4 linked regions of the Homo sapiens genome follow. The protein of the gene in region 1 interacts with the protein of each later gene in a biochemical or structural test. Each region holds a gene or a part of one and is shown in the gene's direction. Other genes may lie near its edges.

What was found. The genes of interacting proteins can lie anywhere in the genome.
Region 2: the proteins of PBK (region 1) and SNTB2 interact in a test that uses a peptide from one of them, tested with the Homo sapiens proteins (one large-scale study listed by IntAct).
Region 3: the proteins of PBK (region 1) and SHANK2 interact in a test that uses a peptide from one of them, tested with the Homo sapiens proteins (one large-scale study listed by IntAct).
Region 4: the proteins of PBK (region 1) and MAST3 interact in a test that uses a peptide from one of them, tested with the Homo sapiens proteins (one large-scale study listed by IntAct).

What each region holds. Positions count from the first base shown.
Region 1 is NC_000008.11:27,823,368-27,828,448, reverse strand, and holds part of PBK (lymphokine-activated killer T-cell-originated protein kinase), read left to right. Parts: intron 1-250; coding exon 251-344; intron 345-5,081. UniProt on the Homo sapiens protein: Phosphorylates MAP kinase p38. Seems to be active only in mitosis. May also play a role in the activation of lymphoid cells.
Region 2 is NC_000016.10:69,238,380-69,243,460, forward strand, and holds part of SNTB2 (beta-2-syntrophin), read left to right. Parts: intron 1-5,081. UniProt on the Homo sapiens protein: Adapter protein that binds to and probably organizes the subcellular localization of a variety of membrane proteins. May link various receptors to the actin cytoskeleton and the dystrophin glycoprotein complex.
Region 3 is NC_000011.10:71,241,781-71,246,861, reverse strand, and holds part of SHANK2 (SH3 and multiple ankyrin repeat domains protein 2), read left to right. Parts: intron 1-3,333; exon of another isoform or gene 3,334-3,466; intron 3,467-5,081. UniProt on the Homo sapiens protein: Seems to be an adapter protein in the postsynaptic density (PSD) of excitatory synapses that interconnects receptors of the postsynaptic membrane including NMDA-type and metabotropic glutamate receptors, and the actin-based cytoskeleton.
Region 4 is NC_000019.10:18,127,994-18,133,074, forward strand, and holds part of MAST3 (microtubule-associated serine/threonine-protein kinase 3), read left to right. Parts: intron 1-406; coding exon 407-465; intron 466-872; coding exon 873-958; intron 959-2,500; coding exon 2,501-2,709; intron 2,710-3,915; coding exon 3,916-4,054; intron 4,055-5,081.

The sequences.
Region 1 (5,081 bases):
AACAGTTCTTAGCTTGTAGGCCATACAAAAACAGGCCATTTCCCAATCTCTGCTTCAGAGTTACTGTAGGATAAAACTCCAAAAGTAGGCTTGGTCAAAAGATACCCATTTAAAATTAGGATATATGTTGTCAAATTGCTCTCCAAAAAGACTGTGCCAATTAATACTCTTGGCAGTAGTATATTGAGAATGTTAAGATGCTTTATTTTTATTTTTTATTAATTTTATTTTTTATTTCTCTGACATTTAGTATTATGTTCAACTCCAACTATAAATATCCCGGCCTCTCCGTTTATGCAGAAGCTTGGCTTTGGTACTGGGGTAAATGTGTACCTAATGAAAAGGTAAGTATAAGATTTCAGATTAACCTTTTTTCATGCAACTATAATTCTACTGTACTTGGAGACAAAGAAGTAGTCTGAAAATTCCAGTATTTAGATTCGGTTGTCTGCTCCTGATCCTGGCTGATGGCTGTATTCCGGTCCCTAGACCCTTTTGTAACTTTGCCTGTAGCTCTGCCTCTGCTTTTCTCCTAGCTTCCTCCTGATGGGTTATTAAAGGGGAAGTCATTTACTTTTTAATTTTTCCTTGGCTTCCATAAGAAGGGGAAGTGGCAGGGGAAAGGGTTCCTTTGTGGTAATTAAACCAGATTCTTCATGAGAAAACCTCAAAGAGGAAGCCAGTATTGGGTGATGTCAGTGACTGCTGTCTTTTCTGCAGCGTTGCCCTCCTAAGATATGCTCTTCTAAAAGAAGTAAAAGATTTTCATTTCTTATGGCATTGTTATTAAGAAGGGTAAATACATGATTTTAAAGTAGGAATATTGTGTTAAGAAAAATGAAATAATCGAACAAGTATGGTGCCAATATAGCTGTCAACAAAGTGTTTTTTTAAATTACTTTTTTATTATTCATATATTTTTTTGAAACAGAGTCTCACTCTGTTGACCAGGCTGGAGTGCAGTGGCACGACCTCCCAGGTTCAAGCGCTTCTCCTGCCTCAGCCTCCTGAATAGCTGGGATTACAGGCGTGTACCATCACACCCAGCTAATTTTTGTATTTTTAGTAGAGACAGGGTTTTGCCATGTTGGCCAGGCTGGTCTCGAACTCTGGCCTCAAGCGATCTGCCCGCCTTCGCCTCCCAAAATGCTGGGATTACAGGTGTAAGCCACCATGCCCAGCCCAAAATTACTTCTTTTAATCATTACTCTGTACCTAGTTTCATGTTTATTAAGTGGCAAACAACTACATCAATATATATTCCTTAATGCATTCTTGGAATCAGTCTAACTAGTCCAACCCTCCGTATCTTAGCTTCATCTAGGTTTACATTGTTTCCAGATAGAAATGCTTTCTTTAATAAGAGGCTAATTAAGAATAATTTAGTAATTATATACAATGGGTATTCCTGAAGCATTTTTGCAGTTTAAACATTTTTTTTGTATGTTTGTATGGTATTGTTTTCTAATTTGTTTTTTAGTGTTAACTCCTATTTTGAAAGAAAAAAATTCTCACAGGTTTATGGCTAGTTTCATTTTTTTCCCCCTTTTTAAAAAAAGTTTTTAAATGTAAAGTGTTTTTAACAAAGTTACACTGTATGTGGTTTAGTCAAAAAGCTTCAAATAGCTGATCTTTTTTTTTTTTTTTTTTTTTGAGACGGAGTCTCGCTCTGTCGCCCAGGCTGGAGTGCAGTGGCGCGATCTCGGCTCACTGCAAGCTCCGCCTCCCTGGTTCACGCCATTCTCCTGCCTCAGCCTCCCGAGTAGCTGGGACTACAGGCGCCCGCCACCACGCCCGGCTAATTTTTTGTATTTTTAGTAGAGACGGGGTTTCACCGTGTTAGCCAGGATGGTCTCGATCTCCTGACCTCGTGATCCGCCCGCCTCGGCCTCCCAAAGTGCTGGGCAAATAGCTGATCTTGAAGAACAGCAGTGCCTGCCTGACCCTACACTCCTCCTGATTCAGCCCTGTCAACCTGGGATTTCTTTTATCCATAACCTGCAAATTTCCTATGCTTCTCTGCTGAATTATATCCTGTGTTTTTAGGTATCTTGTGTCTTATTATTTCTTGATTTACATCCCGTTTTCATTTAGGACATCTGGTAGCTCCCCATGAATCGGTGCACAGAAGATATATTTTTTTGAGAATTTGCATTTCCAAAAATGTTTTCATTTTACTCATACTTGAATGGCCCTTTTTGGTTTTCTGGGTTACAATTCTCATTTGGAAACAATTTCCCTCCAGAATTTTGAGAATATCAGTCACTGACATTGTTTTTTTTCTAGCTTACACTGTTGCTGTTGAGAATTATGAAGCCTTTTTGACTGCTAATTCTTCATATGTAATCCGTTTTATGTTATCTGTCCCCCCCACTGTCCTGGATCCTGGTATGATCTTCTGTATGTCGGTAGCATTCTGAAATTTCACAATGACATGAGTGGATGTGGGGATCTTGGAATCTGAATAGTTCCTGTTCTTAAATTTCTGAGACATTATTTTAAAAATTACTTTGTTGATGATTTTCACCTCTTTTTCTCTGTTCTCCATCTGGAATCCAATTATTTGAATGTTGAACTTACTGATTTCTCATCTACCTCTTTTTTGCTTGGTTTTCTTATTCGCTATCTTTTTTCTGAGATTTCCCCAGCTTTATCTTTCAACAATTCTATTGAGTTTTTATCTTGTTTTTAATTAATTATCTTTTTAAAAATAGCATCTTTAGTCTCTTGGAGTGCTAGAAATGTTCGGTATCTAGGTGTTGATAACACAGGTATATGCACATGTAAAAACTCATTGAGCATTTAGTATGCATATGGTGATTAATTATTAACCTGCTTCTGTATTACAGGTTCTCAACTGACAGTAAACCTCAGGCTAAAGACTTGTTTTATACCTTCCAAAGCTAGTCTACCATCTTTAGAAGCTGGGGAAGGGGGGTGGGCAGCTGCCAGTTGGTACAGAATTAAGGAGGGTATCTACGAGTCCACCTGTTTTTTACCATTATTATTTAGAGACAGGGTCTCATTTTGTTGCCCAGGCTGGAGTGCAATGGTGCCATCATAACTCACTGCAGCCTCAAACTCCTTGGTTTGAGCAATCCTCCTGCCTCAGCCTCCCAAGTAGCTGGGACTACAGGCGTGGGCCACCACATGTGACTTTTAAAAGTTTTTTGTAGAGAAGGGGTCTCACTATATTGCCCAGGCTGGTCTCAAACTCCTGGTCTCAAGTCATCCTCCTGACTTGGCCTCCCAAAGTGTTGTGATTATAGTTGTGTGCTAACCCTTCCAGGCCTACGTGCTTTTTAAATAACTTGCAAGCAGTTCATTGGGGCTAAGTCAGTTACTTTCTTCTGCTTTCCAGCTTCTGAAATTTTGTTGCTGTTGTCTCTTCTGCTGTTATTTCCATTCTTGCTGGCTTGTATGTCTAAAAAATATCCATTTGCTATTATGTTAGTGGGCTTGGAAAGGATAAAAACAATGTGTATGTTTAAGCTACAATTTTAACCCAGAAGTCTATATTTTTTTTGTTAAATCAAGTTTGCATTTCTTGGTTAAATCCAACATAGTTTTGATGTAGTATTTTTAAATAAACTGATGGATTCAGTTTGCTAATATTAAAGTTTATTTCAATTTTTGCATCTGATATAAGTGAAGTTGGCTTGTGGTTTTCCTTTTTCTACTGTCCCTTTTGATTTTTTAAAATTAAAGTTATATGAGACTCATAGTACCTTTTCTGTTCCCTGGGGAAACAGTTTGTATAAGATTGAATGGTAAATTCTTTGAAAGCTTAGTAAACTCACCTGTAAAATCATCTGCACTTTGTATTTCTAGTAGGAACATTTTAAACTGGTGATTAAATTTCTTCATTCATCAGTTTTCTTAGATTTTTCTAAGTCTTTGACCATTTTGTCTTAAATGATTGCATAAAGATTTTATTTACTTACATATTTTTTCTCTTGTATCTGTAGTTTTGTTTCCATTTTTATTTGTGATATTGTCTTTATTTTTTCTTGTGTAATCTCATCAGAAATTTGCCTTTTTTCTATTAGTCTTTTTAATGAACCAGCTTTTTGCATGGTTGAGTATTCAGATTTCATAAATCTATTCTTATTCGATAGATTAGAATATGTTATGGAAAAGGTGAAGATTGACTTGTTTACTAAATTCTAAACTTTCAAGAGCTAAACTTTCAACCCTTGAAATTTGAAAAATATATTTTTCATAATAAAATGATATGCAGGTGCTCATCATTATCCTCAAATGCTGCTGTTATTTAAAACTGGAGGTTTAAGAATAGTTTAGATCAACTTACGGATGATAGATGTACATGAATTAAGAAATCTTGTGATCCTTTTAGTATAGGCTTTTTGATTAAACAAAAAAGGTTCTGCAGTCTTAGAGCTATACCTGTGAGGGAGTCCAAAGCTAAACAGATCTTTGATTCAATCTCTTGTTTTGTGTTCTTACCATTAAACTTTCTGTCTTAAACTTCTGAGGCTCTTTCACTAGGTTTTGTGCTGTTATGCTGCATATACTTAAGTATTTTGTGATTTGCTCTACTCATAAATATCTACCACCTCAGGTAAACCTTTCCCTGACTTTATTTTACCTATTTAGGCCTTAAAACATTTATACCTTAAATATTTGTAAAATGGCTGAATCTTCCTAGAAAATAGAAAGTTTAAAATTTTCTCATTTGTATGTTCATCATTATCTCCTTAAGCACATATCTTTGAGCATGTGGTAAAAGGTATAAGGTGAATTGGTCAGTGTAGGGGAGCAATAAGAACAGCATGCTGTTCTTTGGATGATGATATATGGGTAAAATGTTCTTGATTATCTCTTCTTTAAATTTCCTAATGTTTTTTTCTTCAGGATCCTATAACTCATCTCTGATACATATAATTAAATATTTAATAAGTTGTAGTCCAACATGCTCAAATGGAAAAATTGGAAAGTTACAATTTTCAGGTTTAAAGTTTGTAACATTCCATCTTTACCCTTCAAATTCTTTTCATCCTCTCCCTTCCACAGTATAGATAGTAAGACTTGTTTTAGTATATTAGATCTTACCTCCCAAT
Region 2 (5,081 bases), on another chromosome or scaffold:
TACACTCTATTTTTCCATGTGGTTTCCCTGCACTCTGCCCACATCTTCATAAGTTGTCCCTTTATTAAATCCCTTACTATCGTTTCCTGCTGGGATCCTGACTGATACAGTGATCTTATCCAGTTTCATGGCATTAAATAGCAACTATATGCTAATAGCTCCCAAATTTATGTTTTTAGCCTACACCCATTTCCTGAACTGCAGACTTATATATCTAGCTGCCTGTTAGACTTGATTGTCTAATGTATGTCTCAAGTTCCTGATCTTTCTTCTAAAGCTGTCAAGGGGAACGCTATCCTTCTAGCCTTGTTCGGGACAAAAATCTTGACATTATCCTTGACTCTTCTTTTTGCCACCCCCTTATGTAATCTGATGTAGAATCTGACCACTTCTCACCACCTCCACTACTATTCCCCTGGTCCAACTCCTATCATCTCTCATCCCTGTTAACCTGCCAGCTGGTCTTCCTGCTTTTGCCTTGGCCTTCTTTTATTCTATTTTCAACATAGTGGTCACTTGCTCCTGAAAATCTCCCAATAGCTTCCTGTTTCAGAATAAAAGCCAAAGTCCTTGCCATGACCTAAAAGGCCGTACATGGTCTGCCTCCCAGCCCCGTTACCTTTGTGACCCCATTTACTACTCTGTCCCCCTCACTTACCCAGCTCCAGTTACTCTGGGTCTCCTTACTGTCTAACACTCCTGTTAGTAACTCCTGTTACTGTCCTAACACTGTCTCCCTGGCTGGAATGTTTCTCCCAGATATTTGCATGGCCAACTCCCCCATCTCCTAAAGTCTTTGTTCAAACATCTTATTAATGGCTTACCCTAACTACCATATTTAAAATTTACAAACTGACACCCTGGGCAGCATTTCTGACCCCTTCCCTTGCTGTGTTTCATTTTCCCATTACACTTAACATCTTCCAATATACTGTATAATTTACTTATTTTATTTTGTAATTATCATACTGTACAATTGAATTTTTTCCCCTTAAGGTATACAGTTCTATGAATCTGGACACATACATAAATTCTTGTAACTGTCACCACAATCAGGATACAGGACCATTCCATGGTTTCAGAAAACTCTGTTGTGCTATCCCTTTATAATCATATCCCTTCTCACCCCTAACCCTTAGAAACCACTGAATTTATTTTTATTTATTTATTTATTTATTTATTTAGTCAAGGCAGGGTCTCGCTCTGTTGCCCAGGCTGGAGTGCAGTGGCGCAATCTCAGCTCACTGCAACCTCTGCCTCCTGGGTTCAAGCCTCCTGCCTCAGCCTCCTGAGTAGCTGGGCTTACAGGCGTGCACCACTATGCCTGGCTAATTTTTGTTTTTTTAGCAGAGGTGGGGTTTCACCATGTTGGCCAGGCTGGTCTTGAACTCCTAACCTCAAGTGATCTGCTCACTTTAGCCTCTCAAAGTGCTGGGATTACAGGCATGAGCCACGACGCCTGGCTAGAAACCACTGAATTTTTCATCATATATTTTTTTCTTTTCAATAATGGGGTCATACAACTTTTGAGACTGGTATAATGCCTTTCAGATTCATCCAAGTTACTGAGTTATAAATAGTTTGTTCCTTTTTATTTCTGAATAGTGTTCTATTCTATAGCTGTATCACAGTTTATCCATTCACTTCCATTGAAGGAAATTTGGGTTGTTTCCAGCTGTGGTACTTACGAATAGAGCTGCTAAGAACATTAGTGTACAGGCTTTTGTGTGAATGTAAGTTTTCATTTCTCTAGAATTTCATTAAATTATTAATTACATTATTATTTTTTGCATATTTTATTCACTGGCTAATAATTCTACATGCCTAAAACAGTTCCTGGTATATAGTAGGAGCTCAATAAATTAGTGAATTTGCTATGTTATTTTAGAATGAAGAGGAAGAGTGAAAGAGTCACTCTGAACTCATTCAAGGTTCATGTCACCAGACTCTAGACTGCAGTCTACTCAAACCCCAAATGGCCAGGAGACTTGAGCTGAAAGACACCTGCAAGTTGAGAATGTAAAAGGCTTTTTACTCAAAGCAAAGCAATTCCTTCCTCGTGTTTTTGGTGGTCATTTATCAGCCTCCTGACTTGAGAGAAGAGCTTGGGATGAGGTTGGAGAGAATCCTCCTGAGAGAATACTTTAACAGTGACTGTCAACATAACTCATTCCTGTGCAAAATGCACAGCCAGATATTCCACTCTGAGAATAATCCAGGAACAAACTTGCTTGCAAAAGCAGGGGAAATAATGTTGTGTGACTAACTTAGTTTCACTTAAACTCATAGTAAAGATCACCAGTTGGGGCATGGAAAAGGTAAGAGTTAGAGATAAAAAGGAACATAACGATTATATGAGAAGTTGATGTTTATAAAAGAGGTTGATCCATTTATCCAAATATGTGTGTTTGCAGCCGTAGGCTGTGTCTGCCCTATTATGTATCCTTTTTGGATAAGGTTTTTGTTTCGTTTCGTTTTGTTTATTTGTTTGTTTGTTTGAGATGGAGTTTTGCTCTTGTTGTCCAGGCTGGAGTGCAATAGCATGACCTTGGCTCACTGTAACCTCTGCCTCCCGGGTTCAAGCAGTTCTCCTGCCTCAGCCTCCTAAGTAGCTGGGATTACAGGTGCCCGCCACCACACCTGGCTAATTTTGTATTTTTAGTAGAGATGGACTTTCGCCATGTTGGCCAGGCTGGTCTTGAACTCCTGACCTCAAGTGATCCACTCGCCTTGGCCTCCCAAAGTGCTGGGATTACAGGTATGAGCCACCGTGCCCGGCCTGGATAAGCTTTTTTTTTTTTTTTTTTTTTTTTTTGTGATGGAGCCTCACTTTCTAGCCCAGGCTGGAGTGCAGTGGCACAATCTCAGCTCACTGCAACCTCTGCCACCTGGGTTCAAGCAATTCTCCTGCCTCAGCCTCCCCAGTAGCTGGGATTACAGGTGCCTGCCACCGCACCCGGCAAATTTTTATATTTTTTAGTAGAGATGGGGTTTCACCATCTTGGCCAGACTGGTCTTGAACTCCTGACCTCGTGATCCACCCACCTCGGCCTCCCAAAGTGCTGGGATTACAGGTGTGAGCCACCATGCTCAGCACCAGCCTAGATAAGCTTTAAAAAGCCAGGGTGGGCGTGGTGGCTCAAGCCTGTAATCCCAGCACTTTGGGAGACTCCGAGGTGGGCAGATCACTTGAGGTCAGGAGTTGGCAAGCAGTCTGGCCAACATGGTGAAACCCCGTCTCTACTAAAAAAAAAAAAGCCACTTAACAGGTGGGGTGCAGTGGCTCATACCTATAATCCCAGCCCTTTGGGAGGCCAAGGCGGGTGGATTGTTTGAGCTCACCAATTAGAGACCAGCCTGGGCAAATGGCAAAACCCTGTCTCTACTAAAAGTACAAAAATTAGGTGGGTATGGTGGTGTGCACCTGTAGTCTCAGCCACTCAGGAGGCTAAGATGGGAGGATGGTTTGAGCCCAGGAGGCGGAGGTTGCAGTGAGCTGAGATCATGCCACTGCACTTCAACCTGGGTGATAGAGCCAGACCTTGTCTCAAAAAAAAAAAAAAAAAAAAAAAAGAAGCCACTTGCATTCAGTTTAAAATCAGATGCTGCCTCATGCCCCAAACATGGAACTCTTCATAACCTTATTCATTAGAGCTTAGAATTCAGTAAGAATCAGTTGGATTTTGGATCCTATCCAGTGCATTATAGTTTTTGAAGCCTCAAGATTTCCGTTTACATGTCTTTCATGTTTAAAGTTTGAGCAACAGGCTGGGTGGTGGCTCATGCTTGTAATCCCAACGCTTTGAGAGGCTAAGGCGGGAGGGTTGCTTGAAGCCAGGAGTTTGAGATCAGCCTGGGCAAAATAGCAAGACCTTGTCTCTACAAAAAATTAAAAAGTTAGCCAGATGTGTCGGTGTGTGCCTATAGTTGCAGCTACTCAGGAGGCTGAGGCAGGATCACTTGAACCCAAGAATTTGAGGTTACAGTGAGCTATGATTGTGCCACTGCCCTGCAACCTGAGGGACAGAGTGAGACCCTGTCTCAAAAATAAAATTAAGATAGAGTTTGAACAAGGTCTCAGAATAAGTTTTCTTCATTTCTTAAATACGTTTTTAAAATAAATACTATGGACTTAACAAAAATTTTAAATATACAGAACAACATAAAGAAAAAAATGCAATCCTACACCTGTATATAAGCACTATTGATATTTTGATTAAGTTCCTTCCAGACATCTTTACAGGTACATGTGTGCAGTACATGTATGTGTTTTTGTCACTCTAAAGAAGAGAAGGGATCACAGTAATGCTTTTGGGGTGGGAGGAAGCCCACCTTCACGTTCAGTAAAAGGGATACGTGAGGCCGGGCATAGTGGCTCAAGCCTGTTATCCCAGCACTTTGGGAGGCCAAGGCGGGTGGATCACGAGGTCTGGAGATCGAGACCATCCTGGCTAGCACGGTGAAACCCCGTCTCTACTAAAAATACAAAAAATTAGCCGGGCGTGGTGGCGGGCGCCTGTAGTCCCAGTTACTGGGGAGGCTAAGGCAGGAGAATGGCGTGAACCCAGGAGGCAGAGTTTGCAGTGAGCTGAGATTGTGCCACTGCACTCCAGCCTGGGCGACAGAGTGAGACTGCATCTTAAAAAAAAAAAAAAAAAAAAAGGGATACATGAATGGAAGAAAGAAAATTAGCTTCAGCATCTGAACACTCAAAACAGTTTGTAAACATCAGTGTTTAATTAAATTATTTTGAGGATTATCTTCAACTATCAGGAAAAATGAAATGATTCTGAAATATGTTGTGGATTCTGAGTTGAACTGAAAGCTCCATGTGGGGGTGTAAAGGCTCTGCTTATCCAGCCACGTGTCCAGGTTAAGGCCTTAACATAGGACTGAAACAGAAGACTGTTAACTTTTTGCCATTCCCAAACATAGAAACAGATGTCCATCCACAGCTCTTCAGCCATTCTGGATGGCTAATTAGATGGGGGTATGGACTGCATTGCCATCAACTCAGATAAAATTCATTGCTCTTTTAATAAGGCAATACATAAATTGTATGTGTATGTCTGTTTTTGTTT
Region 3 (5,081 bases), on another chromosome or scaffold:
CCTCTCTGAGTGAGAAGGCAGTGGGTGTTTTTGGTGTTTTAATTGAAGCCCTAGTTGCATTAGCCCTTTTGTTTTGGTATCAGGAGGGCCCTTCACCTGGAGCTGCACCACCCCCTCACCAGCTTCCGGGGGATAGCTATGCCTTTCTTATGTAAAAGAGCCTCAGGGATGTTAGGGAGGGGAGGTGGGCAGGGGATCCAAGGCCTTTCTCCACTGAGCAATTTCAGGAAAGACTTGGCTACCCTTTAGACTGAGCTGGGTCTACGTGGAAAGGGTCCTTGCACCTCAGTTTGAAGCCCCCTGCAAGGGAGATCTTAGTTCACAAGATTACACCTGTACTCAAGGTCCTGCAGGTGATTCTTACCTGGGGACAGTGATGATACTTACGTGAAGGCAGTGACATGTGATGCCAGGTGTGTGCTCTGCATACTGCCAGGCTTTGCTGCCTCCCTGCAGACTTGGGGGTGTCCTGCCCCACGTCTTCCTCACTCCGGCTCATCAGTCCCCTCCTCTTCTCAAGGAGAATCCAGAGTCAGCACCTAGAGTCCTCGGTGGGGGTGGGGAATGGCCAAGAGTCTGGACAGCTGGCAGTCTGCTCCCTGGTCCACTGGGGTGGGTCCTGGGAGGCTTAGGGCCCAAGGAATGGGGTGCAGGGCATCCTGGGTTTCCAGACCTGGAGCTGACACAGACTTCCGGGCTCCTGGGAGGTGGGAAATGAGCTTCCAAGCCTGTCTTTCCTGAAAATCCTGCCCTGGATTCCTTCCCTGGGGAGAATGCAGGCTTCCTGGGGAGTGGAGGGGGATGCTTCTGTGGCCTCATTTGTACCCCTGAGAGCATAGGGCTCAGCCGTTCCTGTCCATGTTTTTCCTGCCACCCCGCACAAATGTCCCTGGGATTTGAAGAATCTGCTCCACTCCCCTCTTCCCGTACAGGGGCCTGCAAACTAGAGGCATTTGCCCCTGGGCCAGCCGGGCTCCTGTCTGACCCCTCCTCACGAGGTGGACAGGTCCCCCAGGAAAGGGACCACGCCTTGCTCCTGTCTGCATTTCAAGGTCCTACAGTGGCCCCAAGCATGGACCAGGGGACTTTGGCAGGGGAAGATACTGACCCGATGGCGTCGCTACTGCCCCTCGTCTTGGTTCTGGACTTTCCCTCCCTCGAGGGTCATTCAGCTCCAGTGGCTGAACTTGCCGAAGGTCGTGTGGCCCAGCTGGGATCCACACCTGGCGGCTGCCCACTCCACCGTGCAGAAGAAGGCACCGGTCGCTTCCCCGGCCTCCAGATTGCCTCCTGGGTGGCACACCAGTTTATTTTTCTGTTCACTTTCAGGTAAAGCAGATGAGGTAGCACAGTGGTTGTCAGACTTCTAGCTTAAGGAATCTTTTTTGCTCTCTTAGCATTTTGAAGGACCCAGAAGCTTTTTATGTATGAGCACGAATCTATTGTTATTTACGCTATTAGAATTTACAAATATCTAATTATTAATGCATTTAAAAATAGTAATAAACTCATGACATGTTGGTATAAATAATGTGTTTTTATGGATAACAACTATTTTCAAAATAAGAAAAACACTTGGTGAGGCCGGTCGAGGTGGCTCAGGCCTGTAATCCCAGCACTTTGGGAGGCTGAGGCAGGAGGATTGCTTGAGGCCAGGAATTTGAGACCAGCCTAGGCAATATAATGAGACCCCATCTCTACAAAAAATAAAAAATTAGCCAGGTGTAGTGGCACGCACCTGTGGTCCCAGCTACTCAGGAAGCTGAGGTGGGAGGATTACCTGAGCCTGAGAGGTCGATGTTGCAGTGAGCCGTGATCACGCCACTGTACTCTAGCCTGGGTGACAGAGTGAGGAAAAAAAATAGTGCAGTGGCTCACACCTGTAACCCCAGCACTTTGGGAGGCCGAGACGGGTGGATCACTTGAGGTCAGGAGTTCGAGACCAGCCTGGCCAAAATGGTGAAACCCCATCTCCACTAAAAATACAAAAATTAGCCAGGCACAGTGGGGCACACTTGTAGTCCCAGCTACTCAGAAGGCTAAGGCACAAGAGATCACTTGAACCCGGCAGGCGGAGGTTGCAGTGAGCCAAGATTGCCCCACTGCACTCTAGCCTGGGCAACAGAGTGACAGTCCATCTCAACAACAACAAAAAAACACTTGGTGAGAAGAGTGGCATTGTTTAACATTTTTGTGGTCTTTTTGCTGTGAGGTTTAATGGAAGACAGCTGGGTTCCCGTATCTGCTCCTGCAGTCAGCTTGTTGCAATATCACAAGTTTTGTAGCTTCCGTTGTGCACTTGGGAGAGGATGAGCTTGAAAAAGCAGCTCCCATCTCAGTGTTATGATGAGAATGGTTTGACTTCATAGATCTCTCGAATAGGCTGGTTCCCGGGGCTGCACGCTGAGAGCCTCTGGGAGGAGCGTGTGATCCGCCTTGTCAGTGCATGGGTCCCGTTTGAAAGCTGGCTGTGCCATGTGGTCCAAAGGGTGCTTTGAATGATGCATGTACCTTTTCTTGTCGTTCAGGATATGTCTGTGGAGTTTAGTCAGGGGCTTCAGACAGCCACCAGCTGGTTCCGACCCCAGGGGCAGGCCCTCTGATTGTGGGGTCTAGGATGGTGGGAGCATGCAGAGGCACCTTCCAGGCTGTGGGGTCAAGGAGGCTGGCAGAGCCTAAGGCAGTTTAGGAGACTCTGAGAGAGCAGCCTGGCCAATTTATAGAGTGAGGCAGGCTTGCAAGTGTAGACAGGAGAGTGGAGAGGACTTTGTAGGTGTCTGGCTGCCCAAGGAAGCCTATAGTTTTCTTTTGAAGTCTGGTTTTGGTATCAGAGTAATACTGGCCTCATAAGATGACTTGGGAAGCATTGTCTTCCATTTTTTTCTGAAAAGTTTATGCAAAATTGGCCTTCATTCTTCTTTAAATGTTTGGTAGAATTCACCAATAAAGCCATCTGGGCCTAGGCTTTTCTTTGTGAAAACTTTTAAAATTATTGATTGGATCTCTGCTTGTCATAGGTCTTTTTAGATTTTCTGTTTCTTCTTGAGTCAAGTTTGTTAGTTTGTGTCCCACCAGAAATGTGTCCACTTCATGTGAGTTTCTCTAATGTGGTTGCTATGTAGTTGTTTGTAGCACCGTCTCATTATTATTATTGTTATTATTTTTTTGAGACAGAGTCTTGCTCTGTTGCCTAGGCTGGAGTGCAGTGGCGTGATCTCAGCTCACTGCAAGCTCCGCCTCCCGGGCTTACACCATTCTCTTGACTCAGCCTCCCGAGTAGCTGGCACTACAGGCGCCCACCACCAGGCCCAACTAATTTTTTTGTATTTTTAGTAGAGACGGGGTTTCACCGTGCTAGCCAGGATGGTCTTGATCTCCTGACCTCGTGATCCGCCCGCCTCAGCCTCCCAAAGTTCTGGGATTACAGGCATCAGCCACCACGCCCGGCCTGACTCCTTTTAATTCTGTAAGTTGGTAATAATGTCCCTTCTTTCATTCCTGAGTTTGGTAATTTGAGTCTTCCCTTCTTTTCTTGATCATTTCAGCTCAGGTTTGTAAATTTCGTTGATCTTTTCAAATAACCAACTTGTAGTTTCATTGATTTTCTTTATTGCTTTTCTAGCTTAGATTTCATTAACTTCAGCCCTAACCTTTATTATTTCCTTCCTTCTGCTAGCTCAGTTTCAGTTTCCCGTTCTTTTTCTGACTCTCACAAGGTGGAAGGTTTTGGTTATTGATTTGAGATTTTTCTTCTTTTTAACATAGACATTTACAGATCTGAATTTCCTTTAAGTACTGCTTTAGTTGTATTCCATAAGTTTTGATGTGTTTTGTCTTCTTTTTCACTCGTTTCAAAGTGTTTTCCAATTTCCCCGTGGTTTATTCTCTGACCCATTGGCTATTTAGATGTCTGTTTAATTTCCACATATTTGTGCATTTGTAAAATAAATTTCGAATTTCATTCTATTGTGGTTGGAGAACATTATTTGTATAATTTCAGTCCTGCTGATGTTTAATGAGGCTGTTTTATAGCCGGGCATGAGGCCTCTCCTGGAGAATGTTCCACGTGCCCTTGAGAAGAATGAGTATTCTGCCGTCTTTTGTGGCATGTGCTGCAGGTGTCTGCTAGGCTGCTCTAGACTCTGGGATACAACAGTGAACCAGACAGACAAATATTTCTGCCCTTGTAGGGTCGACATCCTCGCCAGGGGAGCAAACAATAATTAAAGGAGATCATAAATAAGCAGTGATGTAGTGTGGGAGGAAAGGAGAGCTTGCTGGTGGGGGCTGGGAGCCAGGGGGGCTGCTGTTTTAGCAGGATGGTCGGGGTGAGCTGCATTGAGGTAGCGGTCCTTGAGCAAACACTTAAAGGAGGTAAAGGAAGCGGTGTGTGATACAGGAAGAGTTCAGTGGAAATTGAGAGCACTTTTTTTCCCAATGCACATTTTATAAATTGTGCAAAATACCTATAACATAAAAAGTTACCCTTTTCACCATTTTTAGGTGTGTAGTTCTGAGGCATTAAGGATGCTCATCGTGCTCTGCAGCCATCGTCACCATGTATCTGTAGAACTCTTCAGCTTGCAGAACTGAAACTACGTCCCCACTAAACACTAGCAAACCAGCCCCCTTCTCCCAGCCCCTGGCGACCACCAGTCTGTTTTCTGTCTCTTTGACTTCTGTAGGGACCTCATCCAAGTGGAATCATGCAGTGTTTGTCTTTTTGAGTCTGGCTTAATTCACTCAGCATAATGTTCTCAAGCCTCATCCATGTTGTAGCGTGTGTCAGAATTTCCTTCCTTTTTGTGGCTGAGTAATATTCCATTGTGTGGATGGGCCACATTTTGTTTATACATTCATCCATCCTTGAGGACCTGGGTGGCTTCACCCTCTGGCTGTTGTGAATAATGCTACTGCGAACATGGTTGTGCAAGTATCTTGAGTCCTTGCTTTTAGAAAACACCTTCAAAAGCAGCGTCCAGCCCCAGGCCCGTCTGGTCTTGAGATACTAAAGCTGAGATCTTTTACCCACTCGCTCCAGCCTAGGCTGCTTTCTCACAGAAGGAGGCCCCACCTTTCTT
Region 4 (5,081 bases), on another chromosome or scaffold:
TGTTTGCCAGGCATTCGCTAGGGGCTGCCCCTCTGCCAAGGCCTGGGGCAAGAACATATTGGACCCTCCACCTGGGCTGCACCCTGAGCTGAGGAAGATGTTAGGAGCTGACACCCAGGGGGCCTGTGTCTCATCCCGTCTTCACAGGCTCAAGGCTCAGAGCCTAAGTTTGATCATGACTGAGCACTTCAGAGCCAGGGCAGCCCACTGGCCCTTCTAGAAGGTTCCTAAGTCATTGCTTCATCCAGCCTCCCGGATGTGGCTTCATGACAGTGTCATGAGAGCTGGTCAGGGGAGGCACTGCATCCCCAGCCTGGGGTGAGAACTCTAGAGGCCTCAGGAAATTGCTGGGTGATGCAGGGTGAGGCAGGGAGGCTCCAGCTGAGCCTCCTCCCTCATCTTGCAGAGATGGTGCCACTGAGTCACCTCGAAGAAGAACAGCCCCCAGCACCTGAGTCCCCAGAGGTGAGTAGCAGAGGCTGGGGGACCCCCGCTCATCTTGTTCTTTCCAGAGTGGACCAGGCACCCGCAGAAAGGGCTGGGTTTGCCGAGGTCTTGCATGTAGCTTAATTAGCATCGGTGACTTTGGAGGCAAGGTGACGGCACGTGGGACTGCCCTGCCTTGGAAGTCGGGTGGGGGCAGTGCTGGAGGGGCACTGGACAGGTGAGTTTTGCAGGACGTGTAAGAATTTCCCAGGAGGAGGGCACAGCTGTGAGCAAAAAAGTACAGAAAGTCAGAAGCTGAGTTGGAGAAGTTTGGACAGGGGAGGAGGTAGCATCGGGCACCAGGACCAGTGGTTTGGGCTTGGGGGCAGGAGAAGCCTTCCCAGCTCTGCAGCGGGGCAGGACCCTAAGCCCTTCCCATCCCCTAGAGCCGCGCCCTGGTCGGCCAGTCACGGAGGAAGCCATGCGAAAGCGACTTTGAGACCATCAAACTCATTAGCAACGGAGCCTATGGGTGAGTCCCTGAGTCCTGCATAGACCCATTTCACAGATGCCTGAGGGGATGGTTGAGGCCCAGGCAGCTCCTGCATCCCCCTCCTACCCCAGCAGGGCTCACACATTCATCCTTGAATGGGCAGAGAAGGCACCTGAGGACTGGAGGGGGAAGTGGAGACACGCCATAGCGAGGTTACAGCCTCATGTGTGCTCTGTCCACGAGCCAGGCCTTTACCTGCCCCAGGTGTAGGGCGTTCTAGGGGCTTGGGGGCTGATCAAGGAAATAGATGCCCACCCAGTGGGAGTAGCACGCAGTGAGCTTTATTTAGGTGCTGCTTTGAATGGCAGGCTTGCATACAAGGGAAGTCCCTCATAGCATAAGCCTTTTGGAGGCTGAGGTTCCAGGAGTCACCATCAAGAGGGAGAGGCCGGCAAGGGAACTCCCCGGGCAGAGGGGGATCAGAGAGGGGGCTTACATGTCTAGGTGATGTTGTTCAACAGCATGGGCACTCAATCTCTGGGTCAGAGACTCCCTGCAGGGTGGTAGCAGCTTAGGGTCTTGAAATCCACAAAGTTCATCTTATCCATGGCTCAGAGATGGTGCAGTTTCACGAGTCTGCAAAGCAGACAGGCTCTCAGTGGCTAAAATTTTGCTTACTTGGTCTGTGTGTAAAACAAACGGATGTGTAAAACTTTGAGTTTGGTGCTAGCGGTCTTTTAAAAGAGCTAGACCAGGTGCGGAGGCACTTTGGGAGGCCAAGGTAGGAGGATCGCTTGAGGCCAGGAGTTCGAGACCAGCCTGGGCAACATGGCAAAACTCCATCAATACTAAAAATAGAATAATTAACTGGGCGTAATGGCACATGCCTGTAATTCCAGCTACTTGGGAGGCTGAAGTTGGAGGATCACCTGAACCCAGGAGGCAGAGGTTGCAGTGAGCCGAGATCACCCCACTGCACTCCAGCCTGGGTGACACAGTGAGACCATCTCAAAAAAAAAAAAAAAGGAAAGAAAGAAAGAAAGAAATACACAAGCAGCCAGGTGCAGTGGCTCTCGCCTATAATCCCAGCACTTTGGGAGCCCGAAGTGGGAGGGTCACTTGAGGCCAGGAGTTTGAGACTAGCCTCCACAACATAGCGAGACCCCATCTCTACAAAAAATTTAAACATTAGCCAGGTTCTGTTGTGGGAGGATCATTTGAGCCGGGGGGGTGGTAAAGACTATAGTGAGCCGTGATCTCATGACTGTGCTCCAGCCTGGGCAACAGAGTGAGGCGCTATCTCAAAAAACATAAGATAAAATAAAAATAAAAGAAACATACAACCTAGAGGCCAATATACAAGGGCCATGTGCAGCCCATTTATATGGCCCCCAGCCATGGTGGCTTAAACCCAAAGGTGGCTGCTCTGGGAGGGGGAACAGGTAAGGAGAATGGGTGGCCCAGGTGGAGGGCACAGCACAGGCAAAGGCCAGGCAGGTTGGGATCTGGGCTCAAGTTGAGCTGTAGTGCCTGCTGGGGCCTCGATCTCCGGTCCCAGCAAGCCTGGCCCTCTGTCCCCAGGGCCGTCTACCTGGTGCGGCACCGTGACACACGGCAGCGCTTTGCCATCAAGAAGATCAACAAACAGAACTTGATCCTGCGTAACCAGATCCAGCAGGTCTTTGTGGAGCGTGACATTCTCACCTTTGCCGAGAACCCCTTTGTGGTCAGCATGTTCTGCTCCTTTGAGACCCGGCGCCACCTATGTATGGTCATGGAATACGTGGAAGGTACGCTCACTGGGGCTTGCATGCCTCCAGCGATGGGGAGCTCACCCCTCCACGCCTGGGAGAAAATTTTTAGACCAAGTTGAGGTCTGTTCTGTCCTCCATGAGGTCTCACCCTGCTTTGGGGAACCCTCAGGAACCCCAGTCTGGGGTAGGGAGCCCAGCCATGGGGGTTTAGGGCTGGAGGAGCCCAGACAGGAGTGTGTGAGGATGGGACCCTGGAGGCAAGAGGAGGGTGGCCATCCTAGGTGGGGGGAACTGATGGGCAGAGGCCTGGAGACCAGAAGTGAAGGCAGGGAGATGTATGGTTCAGGCAGGTAAAGTACTATTACCAAAGTACTGCCAGGCGAGAGAGCGAACATGCACTTAGGAGACACCAGCTGTATACAGCACTAATTGCTGCCCTGTCGGGGAGAATCAGAAGGCAGGGTCTCAGCTTGGCGCGCTGGCTCACGCCTGTAGTCCCAGCACTTTGGGAGGCCGAAGTGGGCTGATCGCTTGAGGTCAGGACTTCGAGACCAGCCTAAGCAACATGGCGAAACCCCCATTCACGCCTATAGTCCCAGCTACTCGGGAGGCTGAAGCAGGAGATTCGCTTGAACTCTAGAGGCGGAGCTTGCAGTGAGCCGAGACTGCGCCACTGCACTCTAGCCTGGGCAACAGAGCGGGCAACAGAGTGAGACTCTGTCTCAAAAAAATAAATAAAAATTTAAAAAATAGGCCAGGCGCGGTGGCCAACGCCTGTAATCTCAGCACTTTGGGAGGCCAAGGCTGGTGGATCACGAGGTCAAGAGATCGAGACCATCCTGACCAACATAGTGAAGCCCCATCTCTACTAAGAATACAAAAATTAGCTGGGTGTGGTGGTGTGCGCCTGTAATCCCAGCTACTCTGGAGGCTGGGGCAGGAGACTCGCTTGAACCCGGGAGGCGGAGGTTGCAGTGAGCCGAGATCGCGCCACTGCACTCCAGCCTGGCGACAGAGCGAGACTCTCTCTCAAAAAGAAGAAAAAATTAAAAAATTAAAAATAAATGAAGGTAGGGTCCGCCCCTTCCCTCTCCCCCGACCCTCCCCGCTGAGATAGAACAAACTGGGGACCTTTTGCAGGAGGTAAAGCGAGGAGGATGCATAGGCATTGGGCATAACCTAAGGGGCGGGCGGGGGGCGGGGGTGCCCCGGGCCTCATGACTACATCCGCCCTTCTCCCAGGCGGCGACTGCGCCACGCTCCTGAAGAACATGGGCCCGCTGCCCGTGGACATGGCCCGCCTGTACTTCGCCGAGACGGTGTTGGCGCTGGAGTACCTGCATAACTATGGCATCGTGCACCGTGACCTCAAACCAGACAAGTGAGCTGAGCTAGCATGAGCGGGGCCTCGCGGAGGGCGGGGCCAGAGAGGATCAGGGGCGGGGCCAAAGAGGATCAGGGCAGAGCCTCTGAGGTGCATCCCGGGACCCTTCAGGAGCCCCATCTGTCTGAGCTCTGTTGGTACCTCCTGACAGGAAGGCAGGGAATGAGCGCATGGTGAACATCTTGTGTGTACAGAGGAGAGGAGAGCAGACACTTAATAGGCGTCTGCTGTATGCAGGGGAAGGCCGGTGCACTTATGGAGGTGCTGCCAATCCAGGGGAGAGGATGTGCACTTAGGATGCACACACTGTATACAGGAGAAGGGGCTGCGCACCCAGAGCTGCTGCTGCACAAGGGGAGAGAACATGCACTTATAAGACACCAACTACACACACAGAACAGGATTATGCAATTTGCGAGACCTTACATGTAAAGACAGTGACCGTGCATGTCTTGAGCACCTGCTGTATATTAGTGCAGGAAAGCAAGGAAGAGAACGTGTTTACTGAGAGCCTTAGGATGTTTATTTTATTCTGGTAGGTGGTAAGCACCTACTGCATGCCAGACCCTCTGTGGGCAACTGGGAGACACAGGGCCACCTGCTTTGAAACCCCTGTATTATTTTCTCCTCTGCATTTATTGAGCGCCTGCTGTGTGCAGGGAAAAAGGAATGCCTGTTTGTCAGGTGTCCTCGAGATACGAGGCAAGAACTGACATTTCTCACATACATGTGTGGAGATGTGAACATGAGTGTTAAGAGCCTTGCATGTAGGCCAGGCTTGGTGGCTCACACCTGTAATCCCAGCACTTTGGGAGGCCAAGGCGGGCGGATCACCTGAGGTCAGGAGTTCAAGCCCAGCCTGGCCAACATAGTGAAACCTTGTCTCTACTAAAAATACAAAAATCAGCTGGGAGTGGTAGCGCGCACTTGTAGTCCCAGCTACTCAGGAGGCTGAGGCAGGAGAATCTCTTGAACCCGGCGGAGGTTGCAATGAGCCAAGATCGTGCCACTGCACCCAAGCCTG